2 linked regions of the Homo sapiens genome follow. The protein of the gene in region 1 interacts with the protein of each later gene in a pairwise test. Each region holds a gene or a part of one and is shown in the gene's direction. Other genes may lie near its edges.

The links.
Region 2: the proteins of SLC25A37 (region 1) and PNMA3 interact in binary tests that used the Homo sapiens proteins (3 or more experiments, as listed by UniProt).

The regions. Positions count from the first base shown.
Region 1 is NC_000008.11:23,529,873-23,542,255, forward strand, and holds part of SLC25A37 (mitoferrin-1), read left to right. Parts: intron 1-6,961; exon of another isoform or gene 6,962-7,032; intron 7,033-12,383. UniProt on the Homo sapiens protein: Mitochondrial iron transporter that specifically mediates iron uptake in developing erythroid cells, thereby playing an essential role in heme biosynthesis.
Region 2 is NC_000023.11:153,049,536-153,061,725, forward strand, and holds PNMA3 (paraneoplastic antigen Ma3), read left to right. Parts: upstream 1-6,934; 5' UTR 6,935-7,103; intron 7,104-7,414; 5' UTR 7,415-7,520; coding exon 7,521-8,912; 3' UTR 8,913-8,946; coding exon of another isoform or gene 8,947-9,009; 3' UTR 9,010-10,927; downstream 10,928-12,190.

The DNA.
Region 1 (12,383 bases):
GTTTGCCTTCTCCTTTTGCTTGCGGGGAGGTGGGTGGGCTTGTGCCTTACAGCCCTTGCTGTGGATTGTGTGAGAGGCACTCAGTTTCCTTTAAACCCTGTCTGTCACTTGCCCCGGTAGTTTTAACTGCATTTCTGTAAAGAGGCAGCGTTACTAGGTGCGTTTTGCCTGGTAGACTGAGACCTGCCCTCTGTCAGCCTGCCCAGAACACCCCAGGGCCAGGATAGAGTAGTGCAGGAAGTAATGCCAGTATTGACTGTTACACGTTGCACTTTTATAGGCATAACTCGCCTAATTCATGCAACAGCCCTGGGGGTTAACAGATGAAGAAACTGAGGCGCAGAGAGGCGAACCGATTACCTTGCCCAGGCTCCTACACCACCTCCTATCCTCTGGCTGCAGCTGCAGTGTGCTTTGGAGGATTCGGAGGCCTCTCTAGGTGGCAATTATTTTGCAAGGCAGGTCCCACAGAGGCACCCCCAGCAGCTTTATCTTGTTGCTGATGCTGGTCCTGCATGAGCAGGTATGAAGGCCAGAAAGTATAACTCAGAGGGTTTTCCCGGCTCCGGGGAGCTCGCTTGGAGCCAGCAGTCAGTGTCTGGACAGGCAGAAGTCCAGTGAGGAAAGACATGGGCTTCCAAGGTGCTGCTGGACCTAAGCCTGAGCCATCACCCATATGTCCCTCCAGTGTCCCAGTGGGGAGTTAGAGGAATGGTTCTCATCTCCAGGAAAGACACTGGACTGATACCAGGTGGCATTTGTATGGGAAAGAATCCCTCAAATGTAATAAAATTCTCCATGATTGAAGCTGTTGTCTCAACTGCCCTGGGCAGAGTCTGGGGAAAGTTAGGAGCAGGGAGGTGTTATCTGAGCAGGCCCTAGTCCTACTGGTGTCTTGAGATGAATGTTCTATTCGGGAACCCCACAGTGAGTTCACTTTAGAGCATCATTTTAGCTTATTTTTAGGATTAGAAATAATTAGTTGTGCCTTCTGAGCACCCTTTGACACTCTCAAGAGGCGTTTCTCACACGTTTAAATTGTGTGATCTGTGTTTAGTTTCTCCCTGCCCCATACATGTTGATATGTTTTGGTTCAGATGTCACCTGTATACTTAGTATTACTTTCCATAGCAGTTTTCACCTGTGGACAGGTTAACATGGTGTGAATGGTAGAAGGAGCCGGTCTGGTTTTCCTAGACAAGTCTGTAAAACAAGGCGTGGGTTAGCTAATCAGTGAAGTCTTCTAGGTTCTGGGATTATAACTGACCCTTAGGGGCCCTTCCATGCTGAAGTGTGCAGGGTTGGTTTTGAGGCTGCCACTGAGTGCCAAGGTCTGCCAACATCAGCACAGTTGTCTGCCAAGCATGAGGAGTCAGGGGTGCATCCTCCATCATGGAAAGGCTTGGGGGAGACCACACCTGTGTTCCTCTTAAGTATTTTGGATGATGGCGAAGACCGGGAGTAACTGAGTCAAGAAACCCGGGTTGGGCTTCAAGCCCTGCTCTCACTTGCTTCATGCCTCGGGCACTGTTCTGTGCCTTAGTTTTGTCACTATAAAGTGGGGACAGTGGACCTGCTCAGTCCCTCTCCACATTTTTAACCCATGCCTCGTTTCTCTGAACACACAACACCCATCGTCCTCTTTTATGTTACTTGAAATATCAAAAGAATTATTACAGCTGAAAACAAATCTATGTAAATCGGATCTTGAAAGAGAGAAAGCTTTCTCCAGTTTTGAAAGGCGCCATTTTTAACTTTGATCTTGTAATGACAAATAAGAATGTTGAATCGGCTGGCTTTTTTCTATCCTAGGTAATGTGGACTGTGGAGCTCTGTGCTGGTCACTTTCAACCCTGAACCTGATGCTACTTATTTTGCAGTTCTAAGTGCAAAGTCGGCCTGGTGGATGCTTCCCATTATAATATTAAATTTGCTTCTTCGTGAGGTCACACCTCACATCCCCAGTGTCACTTTAATAACTAGTGTTTTTTACATGGTGGGCCATGACCCATTAGTGGACTCTGCATTTAAAAATAAATAAATAAATAAAAGAAGTTATTAGTGAGAGTGTAAAAATACGGGTGTGCCTGGCATGCAGTGGGAGAAATGTTGAAATTCTGTTTGGGTTGTGTGTGTGTCTCTGAGTGCATTTTACAGACGTGTACAATGTACTTCTGGCTGGGAGTTGTGGTCAAACAAATATGAAAACCACTGAACCTGAGAAAATATCTCTGGAGCCCCAGCAGGCAACACTGAGATTATGAAATGGGTATTTGGAAGACCTTTGGCAACTTTCCTGCTGCTTCCTGTGTCTTCTTCTTTCCCTTGGTCCTCCCATGGTGGGATGTGAGCACTCATTCATCCATAAAGGGCCAGTCTACTGGGACCTTTGGCTGCCCCTGCGATGACAGTGAGCAGCAAAGTGATACCCAGGGAGGGAGTATAGGGTCTCTGCAGGGCTCTCACCAAATGGTGGCAATGACTTACTCCTGTCTAGGCGGGGTCTGGTGGCAGGTTTTCCATGAGCCTCTTTCTGGTGTTCCAGAGTGGCAAGGGGCACTTGGGGTGGATACAAGAACCCCTGGTCTGATCAGGAGAGCTCAAGACTTGAGGAGCATGCCAGGTGGGTGGAGGAGGAAATTCCAACCAGATTAGGCACACCACTCGGAGACCATGCCGAGTCCCGCCTGGGGAAAGCAGGGGCAGAAGGAAACAGGAAAGATTTGAAGCCGGGGGACTTCCGCTGACCCTTTCACAACCCTTCTTTTGCTTTGCTGTTGGGGGAAACCCTGCCTGTGACTCTCCTAGGATGAGCCCTCCTTCCCAGGTTGGTGCACCACGGAGCGTTCCCTCTAGGAGCCTCCTGGCTGACCTTATGGTGTGCACAGCCAGCCTGCCCAGCTCAGCAGAGCATTACCTCAACTTCTGACTTCTCCTCTTCTGAGTTTTCTCCTGGCTGCAGGCAGACTGGTAGGAAGGGTGCTGGGGGGCAGTGCAGGCAGCTGCCAGAGTCCCCTCCCACCCACTTCATTGCTTTCCAAACAAAGTGCAGTTCGGTCCATGCCATTCAGCTTCAGAAGGGCGTGAAATCCCAAATTGCTCTAGTTCCTGGGACAAAACTATAATGATTTTTCTCTCTCCCTTCTTGTCTCCTCTCCCTCACATCCCCCTGCTCCCTTCTTTTCTCTCCTTTGATGAGAGGTGATTTTCTTAAAAGGCGAATTTGGAACGAGGAATCAAAAAAGGGGTATTTGTGAGCTGCAGTCCTGTTCCTTGTTTCATGAACCCCCAGGCAGCCATGGCCTGTACCCCTCAGGCCTACCCTGAGGAGTGTGAGAACCTCATCCACTTTTCTCTGCCCTAAATTGGGGAGGGGCAGGCTGGAGCGTGGTTTGGAGGCGCGTGCCCAAGAGTACTGTGAACAGCAAAGGGGGCCTCAGCTTTTTAGTAGGGAGAGGTATTTGGGGTTGAATGGGAGGATTTAATCAGCTGCTTTGCTTAAACTATACAGGGGTGTGCACCTGGGGTGGGGGATGTGCGTGTCACCTGGAAGGGAGGAATGTGCTTCCCAAACCTTTTCCTGGCTTCCACTTGGGCACGTTTCAGCTGCATGTGGCCATCTCATTAGAGATGAGTTTTGTCCTGTCTTGCAGCAGTGACCAGTCTTGGGGAATCAGTTCCACTTTCTCTGTTTTTTAGTCTTGGGCTTCTGACTCTCTCTGACTTCAGGGGTTTCCTTCTTCTGACTCATCGGATGAACTCACCTGCTGGTGTGGAAGCCTTCAGCATCTTTCTTGAACCCCAGAGCTTTTTGGCTCTTTTCCTGTCTCCACTAGTACGGAACCTTTTCTTGTCAAAGAATTTGTGTTTTTGTTTTTGTTTTTAATCCGAAATACCGGCTGTCATGTCCCATCCATGCTGGCCACAGACATACCCCTGTGATCATGGTGTTGGCTGGACCATGCCAGGATGCATGGCTTTGCCACTCCCATGCCCACCTTGAATGTTGTGTCTGATGTTTGTCATAGGAGGGGTATATCCAATCTCTTTCTCTTTTTTTTCTCCCTCTCTCTCTCTTTTTTTTTGTTTTTTTGAGACAGGGTCTCGGTCTGTCACCCAGGTTGGAGAGTAGTGGTGTGATTGCAGCTCACTGCAGCCTTGACCTCCCAGGGCTTGAGTGATCCTCCCAGCTCAGACTCCTGAGTAGCTGGGACTACAGGCACATGCCACCATGCCTGGCTAATTTTTTTGTATTTTTTTGTAGAGATGGGGGCCTCAATTTGTTGCCCAGACTGGTCTTGAACTCCTGGGCTCAAGCGATCCTCCCACCTTGGCCTTCCAAAGTGCTGGGATTACAGGCATGAACCACCATGCCCAGCCTCTTTCTTTTTGTTGAACTGGAAACCTTCCCTAAAGTTCCCTCAACCTTCCCTCAAGTTCCTACTGAGATGGATTTCCCACCCTTAGAGAACTATCTTGGGGTTCAAATTCCAGTCTTTGACTTACTGGTTGGGCAGGACACTTAGCTTCTTCATGTCCTTACTTGTCAAATGGGGATCCTGATTTTCTTCCTGCTTTCTCTTTCCTGACCCAGCTTTCCATTGCTTCTTTCCCACTTCTCTCATTTTTCCAGTGGGCCTTGTGGAAGTTCCTTGTTAACAAGCTCCCTTACATCTTCCCCTCTTTACCGAATGTTTCTTTCACTTCCCCCTCCTGATGGAAATCCAGCTCCTCTTGCTAAGGGTTGGGAGCATGGACCCTTGAGTCCAAATCCCTGGACCGGGTCCCATTTCCCAGTTAGGTGTGACCTTGGGCAAGTTTCTTAACCTTTCTGTGCTATTTCCCTATCTGTAAAAAGAAGAAGAGATGGTACCGATCTCCCAGGGTGGTTGTGAGGAGGGTTAAGCCCTCGCTGCACTTCACATGCCTGGTACACGCACAGAACAGTTGATACTCTCTGATGTCTGCTCTCATCTTTATCTTCATCATCATCAGCATGATTGCCATCACTTTCTCTCATTCCCTGAGGACTCTGGCATCTGATGCACAGACTTCACCTCCACAGATCCCGTCCTCACCCTGAGGATGGCCCCTCTTCGTCCCCACCCGACTCAAGTCCAAATCACTCCATTCCTTACACCTCTGAGTCAATGGCCTTCACCTCCATGGTCCCTTGACCTAACTCAGAATCTTCCTGAGATCTTAAATCCAGATTATTATAGCCTGGACCCCAAGATTGACTGCTGCAGCTGCTGGGGCCTTTAGTTTCTCTGCCTTTGGTTCTTCCAACCCTGGCTTGCCCCACCTGGGTCCTGGACAGCCCATCTGTCCCTTGGGCAGCGAAGCCCTTCAGGGGACATTCACACTGCCTCCAATGCGCATGCTCCCTGGCCTCAGCTCCACATGTCTGGGCAGCTGCTTGCATCCTTCACGAGGGTCCTGTTGCCCCTTAGCTCCCCACCCTATTGTTGTCAGCCTCAGCCTGGCATCTTGCTTCCATGTCATAGGGAAACCAGGACCTCAATCAAACCCATCTTCCTGTCACTGTCCTTCCAAACTCTCTTGCCTTCTACCCCCACTATAAGGGAACAGGTGTCTTCATTCCTTTAAGGTATATCAATGTGGCAGAGAAGGGAGATGTATACAAACCACCTTGACACCAGGATTTGAATACTGGCTGCACACCTGGGCACATTACCTAACCTCTCTAAGCTCAGGTTCCTTCTCTGCAAAGTGGGGATATGAATACTGTATTAGTCTGTTTTCAAGCTGCTGATAAAGACATACCTGAGACTGCGTAATTTATACAGAAAGAGGTTTAATGGACCCACAGTTCCACGTGGCTGGGAAGGCCTCACAATCATGGCAGAAGGCAAAAGGCACATCTTACATGGTAACAGACAAGAAAGAGGACAGAACCCAGTGAAAGGGGTTTTCCCCATATAAAATCATCAGATCTCGTGAGACTTATTCACTACCATGAGAACAGTGTGGGGGAAACTGCCCCCATGATTCAATTACCTCCCACTGGGTCCCTCCCATAACACGTGGGAATTATGGGAGCCACTATTCAAGATGAGATTTGAGTGGGGACGCAGCCAAACCATATCAAATACCAAGAGCTATTTTATAGGGTTGTTGTAAGAATTAAATGAGGCAACATATGTAAAGTTCTTGCCACAGTGCGTGGTGCGTACGTTGTCAATAAATGGTGATGGTGATGTCATTTTTGTCCCCTCACTCTTGAGTGACTCGGTTCCAGGATCTTTAGGCTTCCTGCTCCATTGAGTTTTTCTCAAAAGTGTTTCTACAGATCCAAGCCCATCCTGTCTTAAATAAACCCCAGACTTCTCACCTTGACCTCACATGCACCCCCAATGTTTCTTCCCATAAACAAACTGTTGCCCCTTTTTTTCCTCCTTAAAACAACACATGTTCTGAAAGAACTATTGACACTGGTCTCTACTTCCTCACTGCCACCCCTGCTTCCTGGCTTTTGCACTGCCCAGCCGCAGCCTCACAGAGACTTCTGGCTACCCATCATCTTCCTGGCCCACCCTGCTGCCTCTGTTCCTGCCAGGGGCACCTCCGAGAGGGGGTTGGCCCTGCGATCCTCAGTTTTCCTCTTTGGGCATGGCTTCTCCTCAGGAATGTGCCCTTCCACCTCATTTTCCCCAGCACACATGCCTCAGTTTCCTCCTGGGACCTGATGGCTCCCAGATCACTATCTTGGGCCCAGACTTTCTGGAGCTGAATCTCCAGTTGCCTCGGAGCCTCCTCAGACTCAGTGTGGCCAGAATGGTGGTCCTGGCTTCCCCTCGGGCCTGCCCTTCTGCCTCCTTCTGCACCCTGGGATGGTCATCAGCTTTTCTCCCACTGCTGCCCTGTATGCAGGGAAGGCCTGCCTGTGGCTGTATCTGTAGTACTTCTTGAATGTGTTTCCTTCTCTCCCTCCCCACAGCTACTTACTGCCTTGGTTCAGGGACCTGGATGTCTCCTCTTCCTTGAGATCCCAGACTGCCCAAGTTAAAAGTGAGTTTAGGCCGAGCTCAGTGGCTCACGCCTGTAATCCCAATACCTTGAGAGGCCGAGGTGGGAGGATCACTTGAGGCCAGGAGTTGGAGACCAGCCTGGGCAACATAGCGAGACCCCATAGGTACAAAAAATAAAAACATTAGCTTGGTATAGTGGTATGCGCCAGTGGTCTCAGCTTCTTGGGAGGCTGAGGTGGGGGAATTGCTTGAGCCTGGGAGGTCGAGGCTGTAGTGAGCTATGATTGGACCACCGCACTCCAGCCTGGGCAACAGAGCAAGACCCTGTCTCAAAAAAAAAAAAAAAAAAATGAGATTACTCTCCCCTGCCTCACATTTCCCTATTGCCCATTGCTGCTTTGTTTTTCTCCCCAGCAGTTGTTACTTCGTAACACACACCATCGTTTATTTATATTGTTTACATATTTTACTTATATTTATAGTATTATTTGTATTGTTTATGGTCTCTCTTCCCTCATCAGAATGTAGGCCCCAAGTGGGCAGGGATGTATGCTCTTCTGTTCACCACTGTATTCCCATTGCCAGAAACACAGTAGGTGCTCAGTAAGTATTTGATGGAGGAGCTTCTGCAGTTCATTCTGCACGTCAGCCATGGCTGGTCCTGCTCTTCAGCCTCCAAGCCCAGCAGCTTCCTGGTGGGCTGCAGTTTTCTCATCGGAAATAGAGAAGAGTAGCAGTGCCGATTCTGCCTCCCTTGCAGGTCGTTTTAGTGCATCTAGTTGGAAAATACAGGCAGGTTTGCAGGGAACACAGTTTTCAAAGTGTAAAGCTCAGTGCAGGTGCTAGGTCATGGTGTTTTTTGTCACACTGGGATCCTGCGGGAGAGGTAAGTTTAGCTGATTGGAGTGGAAGATCCAGCCCATTCTTCGTGGTGCCTGCCGCAGAGCCTGCAAGCCTGCAGAAAGACAGGGAGTAGCCACGTCTTTCTGTAGTTCACACCTGTGTGTCTCCCCACCTGATAATCCCTCAGCACTTCTGTTTGCCTTGCATGTAAAGCCCGACCTTTGCATGGCAGGCACACAGACTGAAACTCTTTCCTCCTCCAGCCTTTCTTGGACTCATCCACAGAATGACAAAGAAGTATTCTGTGAATATTGGTTGAATGAAGGAAGGCACGGCTTTTTAAAAAAGATGAAAAAAAAAAAAGTTATGAAAAGCTTTAAAACTTGCTATTGGCTGGGCGTGGTGGCTCACACCTATAATCCCAGCACTTTGGGAGGCCGAGGCGGGCAGATCACCTGAGGTCAGGAGTTTGAGACCAGCCTGGCCAACATGGCAAAACCCCGTCTCTACTAAAAATACAAAAATTAGCTGGGCGTGGTGGTGGGTGCCTGTAATCCCAGCTACTTGGGAGGCTGAGGAAGGAGAATCACTTGAACCTGGGAGGCGGAGGTTGCAGTGAGCCGAGATCGCGCCATTGCACTCCAGCCCGGACAACAGAGCGAGACTTCATCTCAAAAAAAAAAAAAAAAAAAAAAAAAACCAGAAAAAAAAACTTGCCATTAAACAAATTCCAGTTTTGATTTTTGTTTTGCATTGGTTTTGAATCCATGCATGTTATGGCCACAAAGAAGACTTTCTTGGCTCCGTTGTTTGTCGTGTGTGTGTGTGTGTGTGTGTGTTTGTGTGTGTGTGTAGAACCCAGCAAGCAGCAGCTATACCCCGATGAGGCAATGTCTTCATTTGGCCACTCATGTCATTCCACGTTTCCTGAGTGCCCTCTTGGCTAGGCACTGTGCTAGACACTGGGCTACAAAAATAAGAATGCCTGGTCCCCGTTCTCAAAGTAAGCGTGCTTCCTATAATTAGACCCTGAGCTAAGGCGACAGAACCAGCTCCCTTTCAAGACAAGAGTCGCCTGTCTTGACGGACTTTCAGATGGGCTGGAAGAACAAGGTCTGGCGTGTATGGACTCTGAACTGCTCAAGCTGCTGCCGTCTTGCAGGTCTAGAGCCTACAGGGTAGCGTCATTCTAGTTTCTTTGCTGGGCACTCTGGAATTTGTTCTTTCTCCTGCGAGAGACAGTGGTCCTCAGTTGTGTTCCCTCCCCACCATCCTCACCCTCCCTCCCACGGTGGTTAGTCATTCTGGAGGCTCAAGTTGGCTCACAGAAGGTGCTCTTGAAAACATCCCCCACCCTCCTCGTAACCCCAGACAGTCAGGAAGGGCCGTTGTCGGGTACTAAGAGGTGTTATGGTTTCACATTCATGCTTTCTCTCTGAAGAGAAAACAAAACATGTTGAAATAGGGAGAAATCCCAGCAGCAGCTTGCTTGAAGCAAGGGTTGCATAACAGGTCTAGGAAACGTCTGGCCGTGTGGGTCAAGTTGAGGGACTGCAGCCTTGTGTCACTGAGGGAACTTCTTCCGGGTCCACCGAGCCTCTGGATCCATTAGATCCATCCAGAGAGCCACTTGGAAGGCTCTGGGACCTTGAGTTCTGGCTGGCCACGTGGTCTGTGATGGCTGTCACTGGTGAAAGAGAGACCCTGGCTGATATTTAGCCAACAGTGTTTATTCCCTGGCATGACCAGAAAGGGTGCATTTGAGACACTGCTGTGGGTGGGGGACCCGGAGGAGTGTTTGTGTGTCAGACTTATGCTGGTGTTGAGGCCCTAGAAAGGTCACCAAACTGGGGCGGGGTGTGGGCCCCGTGAATTTAAGTCCTGGTCCTGCCATTAACCAGCTTGGAAACCTTGGGCTAATCATTTCTCTGGGCTAGTTTTCTCCTTGTGAATCTAGACTAGTGTCATCTACTTTACCTTTTTGACAGGGCTGTTGGGAAGCTTAGGTGAGATAGATTTGTGAATGGCTCTTGCAAACCTTAACATGCAAAGCTAATGACAGATTGTATCAGAGGCAATGTGCTTGATTATTAGAGCTGTTTAGGTTAACAGCACAACCTCTGCAGCCAGACTGCCTGGAGTGGCACCTGGTCAAGTTCCTGAAACCTCTCTTTGCCTTATTTTTCTCATCTATAAAATGGGGCTAATAACTTTACCCATTTCAGTGTTGCTGTGAGAATTAATTGAGATGATACACCTAGAATGTTAAGGCACATGGCAAATGCCCCATTAATATCAGCTCCTCTTGTTATTTCTAAAAGTATTACTTCAATGCCTGGGTATGTTTATATATTGCTGGTGCAATTGTTAATTTTATATTATTTTTGTATTGTTAGCTTTTATTTGGTCATTTGATCCTCTTAGCTCTCCTTTGAAGGTGAGAAAAGGCAGGTGTTGTTTCTCATTTCATATTTGAGAAAACTGAACTTCAGAAAAATTACATGCCCTAGAACTCGGGCCTTTTTCTGCTCCAGAGCTGAAAGCGAGAGAAGAGAGGAAGGGAATTAGGCTGGAGCAAGCCAGTAGGATGTTGGATGCAGACTCAGATGTTAATGGCAGCAGAGCCCTTGAGCTGGATTCTAGAATATGAGAAAGGGCTGAGATTGATGATGGGGCCCAGCTGCATTGTTGGGATGGAGGAACCAGAGTTGAGTCGAGGGAGTAACTCCAGGAAATCATGGCACCCAGAAAGTGTGGCACAGAATGCAGGGCTCTAACGTATAGTTAGGAGTTCTTTGGGCAAGTACTCCAGCAAGCAAGGAAGAAGGATGATGACATATGGTTATTGCCACAGGATATTTTTGGCTGCGTCTGGCTTCTCTCTCTGAAACAAATTGCAGTTGCTGTGACACCTTCTCATTTCAGCAGTGAGTCGAAGTTGCACTCAATATAGTGTTTTGAATTCGGACTAGTCGTGAAGATTCCTTTCCAGATCATAGTATATGTATATAAGTCACTTACTGGGAAGAGCACTACATCATAGTTCCGTGGTCCACTAAGGCTGCAGTTTTCTTATCTGAAATAAGGAGGGGTAACGGTGCCCATCCTGCCTCCCCTGGCAGGTCCGCTTACGCATGTAGTGAGAAAATACAGGCAGGCTTGCAGGGAACACCGCTTTAAAAGTATAAAGCTCTCTGTGCAGGTGCTAGGTCATGGTATTTATTATCACACTGGGATCCTGTGGGAGGGGTAAGGTTAGCTCATTGGAATGGAAAATCCAGGCTCTCATTCCAGCACTAGGACTCAGTGCAGCTGCCTGGCCTTGGGCACTTAACCTCTCTCCTTACAGTGTCTCCCATCTGTTGAGCCAAGACAGGGTGGCTGTCTGCTGCCGCCCATTTGGCTGGCTAATGAGGAAGAGCCAGTGCTGCTCACAGCATGCTCATTTCGTGGTAATGTAGACAGGGGATAGTAGTGGCTGCGTGTAGCAGAAACCAGCAGGGTAGGACCGGATGAGCCCACCTTCAGGGAGGTGTACCCAGGGCTGTTAGTTTGAGGACGTCTGTGGGATTTTATATCCTTACTCTTATTTTCCAAGAAAGTCTGTCCCTTTGAGCACCAGGCAGATGAGTCTGGGGACGCTGTGAGGAGGGGTCCCCCAGGAGCAGGAAGGTGACTAATGATCCCGGAAGAATGACTGTGTGTGTTTGCAGACGCCTGGGCTCTTCCCCAGTTTGGCCTTTCCCGTCACTGTTTTCCTCACTTGCTTAAGAGGAGAAGGAGGTAACGCACACAAGTGCCTTTGTCTCAGGGTCCCCACGGTGCCCATCTTGAGGGTTTTGCGGGCGCCTTGCATTGCCTAAGGCCTGGCTTTAGAAGCAGAACATGGAGAGAGAGGTTTGCAGCCTGCAGGAAGCTGGCCAGCCAGACCTGCCGGGCAGCGGGACCCGCGGGCAGTGCCTCTGACTCACGGCACGTCCTTGATACGCAGTGCTCCCCTCCCCACTTTCTCTGCCCTCCTGTGGATCACGGGTGTCCTAGGGCTGTTGGGAGCCTGGATTAAAGTTGCTGAGTGGCCGGCTGATGATCAGATCCAGGGAGTCAGACCAGAGGTGGGGACATCTTTTCAAAGGCAAGAAGATGCTGCCAGTGCGTGTATATACATATGAGGGTGGAAGGGGTAAACCCAGGGTGTGTCTTTAACTGAAGAATCAAGAAAGCTGCTTTCCTTAGTCACCCGCCTCTGTGGTTCGTTTGCTAAACGTTGGCTTGCGTTAGCCTGATTCACAGTAATGTGGCTCCCAAGGAAGATTCACATGGTATTTGTGAAAATGTAGCTTCATCCCCTGCCCTTCATTGAATGACTGAATTACAGTCAGCACCACATAACGATGTTTCGGTCAACTATGGACTCCATATGTGATGAGACAGTGATCCCATAGATTATAGTGGAGCTGAAAAATTCCTATTACCTAGGGGCATCACAACGCATTGCATTTCGCCCGTGTTTGGGATGATGCTGGTGTAAACCTACTATGCTGCCAGTCA
Region 2 (12,190 bases), on another chromosome or scaffold:
GGAAGTTTTCTGCAGGGGTGGGGCCGTCATGGAGAACCTCTGCTCAGGTAGTGCAGAAGGGAAATGTGGGGTTGGGTGGGAGCCCCAACACAGAGTTCCCACTGGGGCACTGCCTAGTGGAGCTGTGAGAAGAGGGCTACCATCCTCCAGACCCCAGAATGGTAGATCCAATGAAAGCTTTCACCATGGCACCAGGAAAAGCCACAGATACTCAACACCGGCCTGTGAAAGCAGCTGGGAAGGGGGCTGTACCCTGAAAAGCTGCAGGGGCAGAGCTGCCCAAGGCCATGTGAGCCCACCTCTTGCATCAGTGTGACCTAGATGTGAGACATGGAGGCAAAGGAGATCATTTTGGAACTTTAAGGTTTAATGACTGCTCTATTAGATTTCTGGACTTGTGTGGGGCCTGTAGACCCTTTGCTTTGGCCAATTTCTCCCATTTTGAGCAGGTGTGTTTTCCTAATGCCTATATCCCCATTGTATCTAGGAAGTAACTAAATTGCTTTTGATTTTATAGGCTCATAGGCGAAAGAGACTTGCCTTGTCTCAGATGAGACTTTGAACTTGGACTTTTGGGTTAATGCTGGAATGAATTAAGACTTTGGGGGACTGTTGGAAGGGCATGATTGTATTTTGAAATGTGAGGACATGACATTTGGGAGGTACTAGGGGTGGAATAATATGGTTTGGCTCTGTGTCTTCACTTAAATTTCACCTTAAATTGTAATAATCCCCACGTGTCAAGGGTGGGACTAGGTGGAGATGATTGAATCATGGGGGCAATTTCCCGCATACTGTTCTTGTGATAGTAAGTTCTCATGAGATCTGATGGTTTTGTAAGGGGCTTCCCCCTTCACTTGGCTCTCATTCTCTCTTCTGCCATTGTGTGAAGAAGGATGTGTTTGCTTCCCCTTCCACCAAGTCCTCCCTAGCCATACGAAACTGTGAGTCAATTAAGCCTCTTTTCTTTATAAATTACCCAGTCTCGGGTATTTCTTCATAGAAGTGTGAGAACAGACTAATACAGAATCCTAATTAAACTATGGACTGTGAGCAACAATGCTTTGTCCATGTATTTTCATCAGTTGTAACAAATGTACCACTCTGGTGCAGGATGTCAGTAGTGGCAGGGGTTGTGTGTTAGCAGTGTAGAGGAGGTACATGGGAACTCTCTACCTTCTATTCAGTGTTGCTGGTAACCTAAAACAGCTCTAAAGTTTTTAAATTTAAAATGCTGCAAAATGATGACTCTGACTTTTTAATATTGGGCTAGATAATTTTCTAATTCTGGACTCACTTGATTGTTCCCAGAAATTTAACTTTGATTGACTAAAATTCATTTTAGCCCAAATGTTTTACAATTCTGTAAAGTAACAAAGGTGTGATTTTTTTTTTCCTGAATGGGAAATAAGTGCCATGGCCTTATTGTCTCAAGGAGTAAATCAGTTTTGAATTTAACTTAGCAATTTACCTCATCATTTCTTTCCCCCAAAACTATAAGTCCTTCAAATCTTTTCGAACCAGCTCTTCATTCTGCTCCTCCCTCACTGATTAGTTAAATAAAACTTTGACCCATAATCACTATCTGTTTGTGTGGGAATTTTATGATTAAAAAGAATTGGTAATTGTAACTTTACATCATCCTACAATCAAGGACGGCCTGCTCTTGTGGGGGCCCTGGCCTTCTGTTGGTCAGGAACAATGTAAAAGTTCTTATTTAGAGCACAATGAGGCAAATGAAAAGGGAACAGACAGTGACCAACTGTTACTTAAATCTAACCTGTAAAAGAAAGATTCTTTTTTTCCCCAAGCCAAACTGTATCTAGCTTTATTAAAGATACTTTCCAGAAACAATCATGGTATTTCAGGCAGGACATGGGCAGTCATTCACAGTATAAAACATTTCAAATTCCCTACTTCAATGGACTACCAAAAATCAGAAAGCCACTGTAAAACCCAATGAAGACTTCATCTGATGCTCTGAACAGGGAAAGTTTAGAGTGAAGGTTGACATTTCTCATTTAGCATGTTGTTTTAACAACCTTTCATGAGTTGACCCTGACTTTCAGGAAGTGAAATGAAAATGGCAGAATTTATCTGATGATCCACAATCTAGAAACAGAACCGCTGCTCTTTTGAGGGGCACCATCTCAGTGGCATCACAGGCAAGTCCAGATTGCCTGACACACTGGTAACCAATTATTTGGGTTCAGGTCCCAACAGGTGTCTGGGTTTGAGTGAGTTAAGTCTATGATGAAAGGTGGAAAGGGAGAAGAGGACATAAAAACAATTTGTTTTTCCATACCAAGGCTTTTGTGCCAAGGTGGCCATGTGTGTCAAAGTCAGGGAATCTCTCCTCTTGGGAACCAATAGGAAGTCTCTCAAACCTAGAAGGGAAATGTGTTTTCCCCACATCAATCCAGCTTCATAGACATTCTATTAGTGACCTATGCCCCTTTCCCCCCAAACAACAATGAAGTGCTCTGCGTGCTAACAGCATAGCTTAAAAAAAGTAAAACAAAATTATGAATTTTTATAAAACTCGATAAAAAATAGTATTTCAAACTCTTCAGTCACCAGAAGTACAGTTATCAAAAATGCAGACACTTCACGTGGCATCTCCAGGACCTTCAGCTTTCTGTGCCTGGTCTGTTTTGTCATCTCCATTTTCTGCAGGGTTATTCCCCTCCCTGCCAGCATTAGCATTTACCCTTTTCCCTATGGGTACCTTCACTCACTTTTTTGCAGGGGCCTCTTTAGGCTTAGACTCTGGCTTTGGAGAAGCAGGTTTAGCAGACAACCTCTTGGATCTTTTCTGTGGTTTGTCCTTCATGTTGGATTTATCTCCTTTAGCATCCCCTTCAGCCTTTCTCTTGGGGATGGTGGTGATAGTGGCGGGACATAGGCTCTGGGGGAGGGATGCAGTGGTGCACGGGCTTTGGCCACTCTGGGGAGTCGTTCTTGTCTCTTTACTTCCAGATTCTTTTTTTTATTTTTTTATTTTTTTTATCTTATAAGTAATTCCTTTGCTCTCCTCTGGCTCTCATGTATCCTCATTATTAAATAGTTATGCCATCTAGTCCAGATTCCATTTCAGAAACCTTTCAGCATTTTTACCATTCGAAGATTTGCAGTTTAATCTTTTTATTAGTTTTCTAGAGTGACTGTACCAAAGTACCACACTAGGTGGCTAAAGCAATAGAAATGGAATGTCTCACATTTCTGGAGTCCAGAAGACCATCAAAGTATTGTCAGTGTTGGTTCCTTCTGAGAGTGGTGGGGGAGAATCTGCTCAGAGACCTTTCTCCTAGCTTCTGGGGCTTTACTGCCAATCTTTGGCATTCACTGGTTTGTGGAAGCATCACCCCAATCTCTGCCTTCATCTTCACATGGTGTTCTCCCTGAGCATCTTCATGTTTCTGTGTTCAAATTTCCTTGCTATAAGGACACTTGTCACATTGGATTAGGGGCCCACACCACTCCAGCTTGATTTCATGTTAACTAAGTACATCTACAATGACCCTATTTTCAAATAAGGTCACATTCTGAGGTGCTAAGGATTAGGACTTCACCATATGAATTGAGGTATGGGGAGACATAATTCAACCCATAACAGTCTTAAATTAAGAGGTGTAATTTCTGTCCATTTGTGTATTTTCCCAGAGAAATTTCTTAAAGTCCAAATAAAAAACTTAATTGGTCCAATAATGATGATTCAGAGGAGCTATTGTTATCTGAGCTTCTATAAAAATTAGCGTGCTTTGGGCTGCAAGTACCAAAAGTGTGACTCAATGCCAGCCATATGAATGAACCATCTTGGGTGCCCAGCCCTGTTGAGTCTTTAGACTTGATTCTCAACTCATATCTCAATGCAACCACATGAGAGATCCCATGAGTGAACTGCCCAGCTAAACCTTCTCTCAATTTCTCACTTACAAAATTGTGAGCAGAATAAAATGGTTGTTTTAAGCCAGTATGTTTTGGGTAGCTGGTTGTGCAGGAATAGTAACTTAATGGGAAGAAATATCCAAAGTAAATAAATAACTCCTATGAAAGAATTAAAAAAGAGAAGCACCCCAGTTGAGAATTGAGACAAAAATAGGAATTTCAATCAAGAGGAATAAAAAATGCCCCCCCAACCAAGGTATTAAATCTAATTCATAATCATAGAAATTCTACATAAAAGCATAATAACAATTGACATTCCTCAGGATTAACAACATTTAAGTCACACAATATGAAATGTTAGTGATGATATGGAGCTTGATGGAAACATAAATTTGTACAGCAACCCAGAAGACAATTTGGCAATGTCTCTGAATACTAAAGATAGTCTTTGATTCAGCAATGCCATGGCTAGGTACATAACTTAGAGGAACTCTCCAAGAATATTTAAAGCAGCATTGTTTCTGATAGTAAAAATGGGAAACAACTTAAATATCTGTCAATGGGAAAATTGATAAATTTTGGTACACACACACACACAATGGAATACTATACAGAAGTGAAAATTGAGGAATAAAATTTGCTTATATCAAAATGGTGATTCTCACAAACAATAATTAGTTAATACAGTGATGACTATGAATAGTATGATATCATTTCTGCCAAGTGTAAAAGAGACAAAGACAATTTTTTAGGGATATAGTCATTTGCAGAAAAAGCACGAAGAAATGCACATGGAGGACAAGAGTGGGAGACAACAGGGAAGGAATCTGCAGGCGCTTACCCTCACTGGCAGTGTTTTATGTCTTCATCCAGTTACTACATTCAGGAGTACTGGATGTACTTTTTAAGTACGTTTTGTATGTTAAATATTGCAGAATGTATTTTATAAAGTATTTAATTACCAGAAACTCTTTAAAAAATTCCCAGGCCTGTTTCAGACTCAGCAGATCAGATTGCAGAGGTGGGGCCCATGAATCTGCCCCTTTTGTGACCCCGATAGTCACTACTGGTCTAAGCCAGGGCAAGGCCACCCCGGTGGAGGTTGCTTCCTTCATGCTGTATTATGTTTTTCACTTTACAAGTAATAATGTTTATCCATCAGTTCCCCAACTTTGGTGCTGCTGTGTTATCTACCATGCAAGGAGATGGGGAAGCAAAAGTAATTAAGACATTTCCACTGGTTTCAAGGGCAAAGGTTAACTCCAATATAAAGGAGTTCTAAAACTTTTCAAATTGGACATATTCACATCTATTGTCTTGATACCAGTGTTTCCAAATCCTTTTTTCCCAATGCCCAGAACATCCACAGATCACTGCGTCTGTCTGGGAACTTCACAGGCTTCTTTCCGGAGACATTCCAGACACGCCCCTCTGCCTTGGCATGAATACTTGGCATCTCCCCTTGACATCTCAAGCTTTGTCATTTACTCACTGTGTGACCTTGGGCCAGTAGTGTCCCTTCTCTGAACCTCTGTTTCCACCCCTGCAAGTTGGGCAGATGAAGGTTCAGTTTGAAGCTGGTTGAGCCCTTGGAGTGACAAAGCAAGGGACTGTGAATGGACAAAAATGAGAGAAATAAATTCTAATAGGCATGAAGCAACCAGGGGAGAAATAGTCCCAATTCTACCCAAAGACTGATGGGCACTAATTTAGAATCCAGTCTCAATTCTACCTTCAATACGGTGTGTGACCTTGAAAATGTCTCTTAATCTCTCTGAGCCTCATGAGTCAAATCAGGATAATGTTAATACCTGCTTCAGAGTTCTGGTGAGGAGCAAATGAAATAACTCCTGTAAAGATGTTTCAGGAATTCTGTCTGACCAGGAAAAAGCCCTTGGGGCCATTTCTTCTTGGTCCCTGACAAGTGCCAGGCTGACGAGCAGAACTCAGGGTGGGGCAGGAAGTCAGTGGACAGTTTTGTGCCCCACTCACTGCAAGGTGGCCTCCCAGACTTGGCTGGATGGGTGAACCTGGCCTGAAAATCAACCACAAGCCCCTTTTCGTTGTGTTTGGAGAGGAGCTGAAGCTGTGTGAATAGGAGTTGAGCATGCGGCTGGCAGAGCAGGCAGGACCCACAGAACACCTGGGCCCACTGCCTGAGGGACAGTCACTCCCTTCTTCATTTGGCTGCTGCCCTGGGATCAAACGGATACAATAGAACCCACGGCGCACGGCTGCCAAGGAAGGGCAGGCCCAAGGGATTGGGCTCCAAGTCCTGGAAGTGGTTTCCCAAGTCACTAGATTTGCAGCGCACAAAACCGGAAAGGTCCCGGTAAACCTGTCCACTGGCACCTGGGCAGCGAAGCGCTTTGGCCGGAGGGCCTCAGGTCCCAGCAGCGGGATGGACAGCGGGGAGATGGCTGACCCTCCTTGGGGTGGTGTGCGTGACCTGCATGAGTGCCTGGGGCATCTCCTGCACGGAATGGCACCCGCACCAGGTGCCCCTGGCCTCGCCAGCCAGAGGACCAGTCCTGGACGGGGAGGGGGAGGACAAGAGCAGGTGAACAGGCCCCAGAACCCGGCTCCCTGACCCTGGCCATAATGCAGAGCTGCCTGGCGCACCTCAGACCACTCCCTGGCCCTCTGGTGGGCACGCCGGGGTGCAGACCCCTCGCCCCGCTGGCACCTCCGTGGCACGTGCGGGAGGGGCAGGAGCCGGGACCAGGAACCGCTGTGGTGAGAGCCAAAGGCACGGGGACTGGCCGCCACAGACCTTTGGCCACCGCAGTGGGGATGGGGGTGGGCGGGCGCTTGTGTGCCCGGGGGCCCGGGGGCCCCCGTGGCGGGGGGGCTAGGGGAGAGGAGCAGGTGACGTCACCCGGGGACCTGGGGCCCCCAGGGGCGGCGGCGAGAGCCCGACCTCGTGACCCGTCCGCGCCAATGGCCCTGCGGTCTCCCGGACGACGCGGAGGGGTCCGCGCTGCACCGCCGCCGCGCCCCCGCCCCGTGTCCGCACTGCAGAGAGCCGCGGCGAGCAGGCGCCGGCGCACTGGCCCACGTGCTGCGCGAGCGAGGGAGAGCCACAGTCTGAGCGAACGTCCGCGCTGGGAGCCAGGGGTGCCCGACCCCCGTCCGCCGCCGCCGCCGCCGCCGCGCATAGCCCCCGGAGAGCCCTCTGGGGACCCCGACCAGAAGGGACCTTGCCCTGGGAGAAGGTAACAGACCCACCTGGGGAGGGAGACGCTGGGCCCCGGGAGACTCCGCCGCCCCTCGCCTGTCCGCCCTATCAGAACTGAAGCAGCCTGCAGGGCAGGGGTCCAGGGTCCTGGGGCAGCGCGGGGAGGGGGCTGAGGCCCGCAGAGACCCCACGGGGGGTGGGGGTGGGGGGCTGGGCAGGGGCGGGGCCTGGCTGCAGAGGCGCCGCCCGGGGAGGAGGGCGGCTGGGGGTGGGGGTGGGGGTGGGCGTGGATGTGGGCGTGCGGAGAGGTGGGCATTAACCTCGCTCTCGCCCTGCTCGCATTCACAGGCTGTGGAGACCTGGGCCTTCTGCGATCACCCTAGGAGTTGATCCAGATATGTGCCTCACGCCCTGATCACTCCCCCCAAATTAGTATCCGCAGAGATTCGAGGACATGCCGTTGACCTTGTTACAGGACTGGTGTCGGGGGGAACACCTGAACACCCGGAGGTGCATGCTCATCCTGGGGATCCCCGAGGACTGTGGCGAGGATGAGTTTGAGGAGACACTCCAGGAGGCTTGCAGGCACCTGGGCAGATACAGGGTGATTGGCAGGATGTTTAGGAGGGAGGAGAACGCCCAGGCGATTCTACTGGAGCTGGCACAAGATATCGACTATGCTTTGCTCCCAAGGGAAATACCAGGAAAGGGGGGGCCCTGGGAAGTGATTGTAAAACCCCGTAACTCAGATGGGGAATTTCTCAACAGACTGAACCGCTTCTTAGAGGAGGAGAGGCGGACCGTGTCAGATATGAACCGAGTCCTCGGGTCGGACACCAATTGTTCGGCTCCAAGAGTGACTATATCACCAGAGTTCTGGACCTGGGCCCAGACTCTGGGGGCAGCAGTGCAGCCTCTGCTAGAACAAATGTTGTACCGAGAACTAAGAGTGTTTTCTGGGAACACCATATCCATCCCAGGTGCACTGGCCTTTGATGCCTGGCTTGAGCACACCACTGAGATGCTACAGATGTGGCAGGTGCCCGAGGGGGAAAAGAGGCGGAGGCTGATGGAATGCTTACGGGGCCCTGCTCTCCAGGTGGTCAGTGGGCTCCGGGCCAGCAATGCTTCCATAACTGTGGAGGAGTGCCTGGCTGCCTTGCAGCAGGTGTTCGGACCTGTGGAGAGCCATAAAATTGCCCAGGTGAAGTTGTGTAAAGCCTATCAGGAGGCAGGAGAGAAAGTATCTAGCTTTGTGTTACGTTTGGAACCCCTGCTCCAAAGAGCTGTAGAAAACAATGTGGTATCACGTAGAAACGTGAATCAGACTCGCCTGAAACGAGTCTTAAGTGGGGCCACCCTTCCTGACAAACTCCGAGATAAGCTTAAGCTGATGAAACAGCGAAGGAAGCCTCCTGGTTTCCTGGCCCTGGTGAAGCTCCTGCGTGAGGAGGAGGAATGGGAGGCCACTTTAGGTCCAGATAGGGAGAGTCTGGAGGGGCTGGAAGTAGCCCCAAGGCCACCTGCCAGGATCACTGGGGTTGGGGCAGTACCTCTCCCTGCCTCTGGCAACAGTTTTGATGCGAGGCCTTCCCAGGGCTACCGGCGCCGGAGGGGCAGAGGCCAACACCGAAGGGGTGGTGTGGCAAGGGCTGGCTCTCGAGGCTCAAGAAAACGGAAACGCCACACATTCTGCTATAGCTGTGGGGAAGACGGCCACATCAGGGTACAGTGCATCAACCCCTCCAACCTGCTCTTGGTAAAGCAGAAGAAACAGGCTGCAGTTGAGTCGGGAAACGGGAACTGGGCTTGGGACAAGAGCCATCCCAAGTCCAAGGCCAAGTAGGCTCGGGAGAACAGGGCAACATTTCCTACCACAGGCCAAGGAGACAAAAGAGATATTGGAAGGAGGGGAAAGAGAAGCCCAGACAAACAGCAGATGAGTTGAGTGGGGCAGAGGGACAGGGCAGCCAGACCAAGGCCAAGCCTTCTCACCCTTGGCCAGCTGGAAGGGACTTCAGCAACCAAGACCACCTGGCAACAGGCTCAGTGGGGGTCAGGTCCAGGTCCCCGAAGAGGTGCTGGAGAGGAAAGCAGGGAGCCACTGCATCCAGCACATGGGGTGCCTGGGCCTCAGATGGGGACCCCAAAGAAGCAGAAGCTGAAGAAGGTACGGCTGGGGGTTCTGTCCTGCTCATCCAACCACCCCTAAATACCCACCCTGTGGACTTTGAGCTGAACATGCCCACTGGCCCCCAGGCCACATGGGACCTGGAGGAGCCTACCTGGGGCCTGCCCCTGCCAGCAGGTGCCAGGGCTGGTGAGGAAGAGCTGGGGGGCAGAGGTAAAGCCCTGCAGGGGAGGCCACAGGGTCCATCCCGTCTTCAGGATCATCTACACTGCACTAGGGGAGCCCCAGGAAGGCAGCACCCTGGAGGCCCTGTGCCAGTGAGGACAGGAGACCCTAAGGCCCCGGGAGCCCAGTGCCAGCCAGAGGTTGTGCAGGCAAGGAGACCAAAGATTGATGAGAAGACCCCCAGCAGGGGTACTGGGTACCCGGCAGGCCAGTGCCCTCACAGTTGACTTGGACCAGGGTGGCTGTGAAGGGAAGTCTTTGTTGCAAAGGAGGAGGAAAAGGGAGGACTTGGTAGGGTTTTGTTTCTTCTGCTTGTTTCTGTACAGGGCCACCAGACTCCTGGAGAGATCAAGCAAGGAGAACCTGGGGCTGCCATGGCCAAAGCAACTCAACAGATGCCAATGCCAATTCCAAGGCCAGCCACAACCCTGCCACCTTGGGGAATCCAGCCTGGAGGCATCCCCTAAGCAGCCAGCCATGGCCTGGGTGGAGGCACCTGAAGACGTCTGTCCCAAACTCCCCCAGCCCTGAGCTGGGAGATGACAGGGGGAAAGAGGCCCTCTCAAGGGTGCCAGATGCCTGGGTCTCCCAAGAGGGGTCCCCCAACTCACTGTTCCCGGGACAGGCTGCCCCCTGTTCCAGGAAGCTCATCCTCACCTGTGTAGGCCCCTGTAGTGACCCACGCGTCCAGCAGACGCCCACCCACCGCTAGCCGTTGTTCCTGTGCAAAGTAGTGTGCTATGCACCCACCCAGGTGGCCGCCTCTGGGCCCAAGGCACATGCTGTGAGCTTCCTGTGAGCCCAGGCTCTGCTCACTGCTGTCCCGCGTCATGAGCACCACCTCTGCTTTCCCTGTGTAGATCTAGGCCAGTGGCTGCTTGTTCTTGTGGAGCTGTGTGTGTTCTTCTCTGAGCAGCTCCTCCCCGGAGTCCCCCAGCACAGTCCCAGGAGATGACAGGAAGGAAGCACCAGGGCAAGGCGGACGCTCACCCTGTGACCACGATGGTGACCGTGACTGTGGGAGGAAGAACTGGACCCAGGACGGAGCGGGGCTGCCCTGCCTGAGGCTCCCGAGGAGCTTTGTGCTTTGGTGTTCCACCCCTGTTGTTACTCATGACTCAGTTTCCTTAACCTGGTAGGGTGTTCCCTGCTGTGTTTTCCAGTGTCCTGTGACTGTCCTGTGCGGGCCATAGGGCAGGGCCCTGCCCCAGCAGATGGGCTTGGGAGGGGACTCCCTAAAGCCAGTGGACACTGCCAGAGTCTACCTTCCTGGCAAGAGGCAGACCCCGGGGCCCTCAGGAAGGAGGGAGTTGGCAGCGGGGGCTGCAGCAGGAGTAGGAGCAGATGAGGCGTCTTGCCAGGAACCTCAGGAGGAGGGGGCCCGGGACCTGTGTGGGACCTGTGTCCTGTGGTGGCCGTTTGCAGTTTCTCTCTGTGTTGTGATTCCCTTCTCTTCAACGTTTTCAGTACGTGTTTCTCTTCAATAAACTTCATTCAGTGTTCCAGCCGGCCTCGCCTCTGCTGTGGGAAACTGGGGATGAGGTTGGCTGGGCATGGGGTTGGGGTGGAGTGAGGGCCACAGTGGCTTTGTTAACACTGGTGTATACTTGGGGCTCGGTCTGCAAGGCATTCTAGAATGCCCTATCTGCGCATGTTGGTCATGAGCTAGGGTTCACGGCCCACGGACCCAGGCAAAGAAACCCAGCTGAGCAGGCTGGATAGTCCCAGTAGACAGGACACTGGTAGGCCCAGGCAGTGGCTGGTTGGGTCCTCAGGGCACTGGTTGAGCTTCTCAGAAATGAATAACATATTTAAGGAAGGGTGAGGGACAGCAGGCTGGACCAGTGGCCCCAGGATCCCTTGTATCACTATTGGGCTTCCACACCTGGAGCATCAAAACCAGGCCCATCTCTGTGAGTGTGTGTGAGATGGTGAATATGTGTGAGTATGCGTACTAGTGATTGTGTGAGAGTGAGTGTAGGAGAGTTTGTGTGTGTCATGTGTCAGCGAATGTGTGAATATGTGAGTGTGTGAGATGGTGTGTGAATATGTTAATGTGTGTTTGTATTTGAGTGTGAGTATGCATCAGTTTTTGTGTGTGAGTGAATGTGTGTTAGTGGTCAAATGTATGTTTATGTGTTTAATGTATATGTGTGTTAGTAAAAGTATGTGAATATGTGAGAGTGAGACGGTGTGTGAATGTGTGTATGACAGTGAATGTGTGGGTGACTTTGTGTTGTTGAGTGTGCACATGAGTGAATGTGTGTTTCAGAGTGTGTTTATGAGTTTGTGTGTGCATATGCGTGAATGTGTGGAATGGGTGAGTGTGTGAGTATGTGTGTTAGTGTGTATGAGACAGTTTATGAGAGGGTGTGTGAATTTTCGTGTGAGTGCAAATGTTGGGTGATTGATTTTTTTTTTATTTCTTTAAGGGATCAAGAGGGTTGGAAAGAAGGCAGAGAGAGGTAGAAGTTTCTTTGCCACCAAACAGCAGTGAGACTTTTGTTGCCTCTAGGCTGATGGCCCTAGAGCTGGGCCTACTAGCTAATCATCCATTTCTGACCCCTGGCACATTCCTATTTTTAAGGTTCACATGGCTTCTTGGCCTTTTGGCTACGATCAAGTGCAGTATCTATTTTAAGGTCCCTAATCTAAAAATAGATATGTGTTACAGTTATTGTGTGATTAAAGCTGATAGAAACATCCTCGTATGAATCTCTGTGGACTTTTGTTTTCCTTTCTCCCGAGTAAATACCTAGGAATGGAAT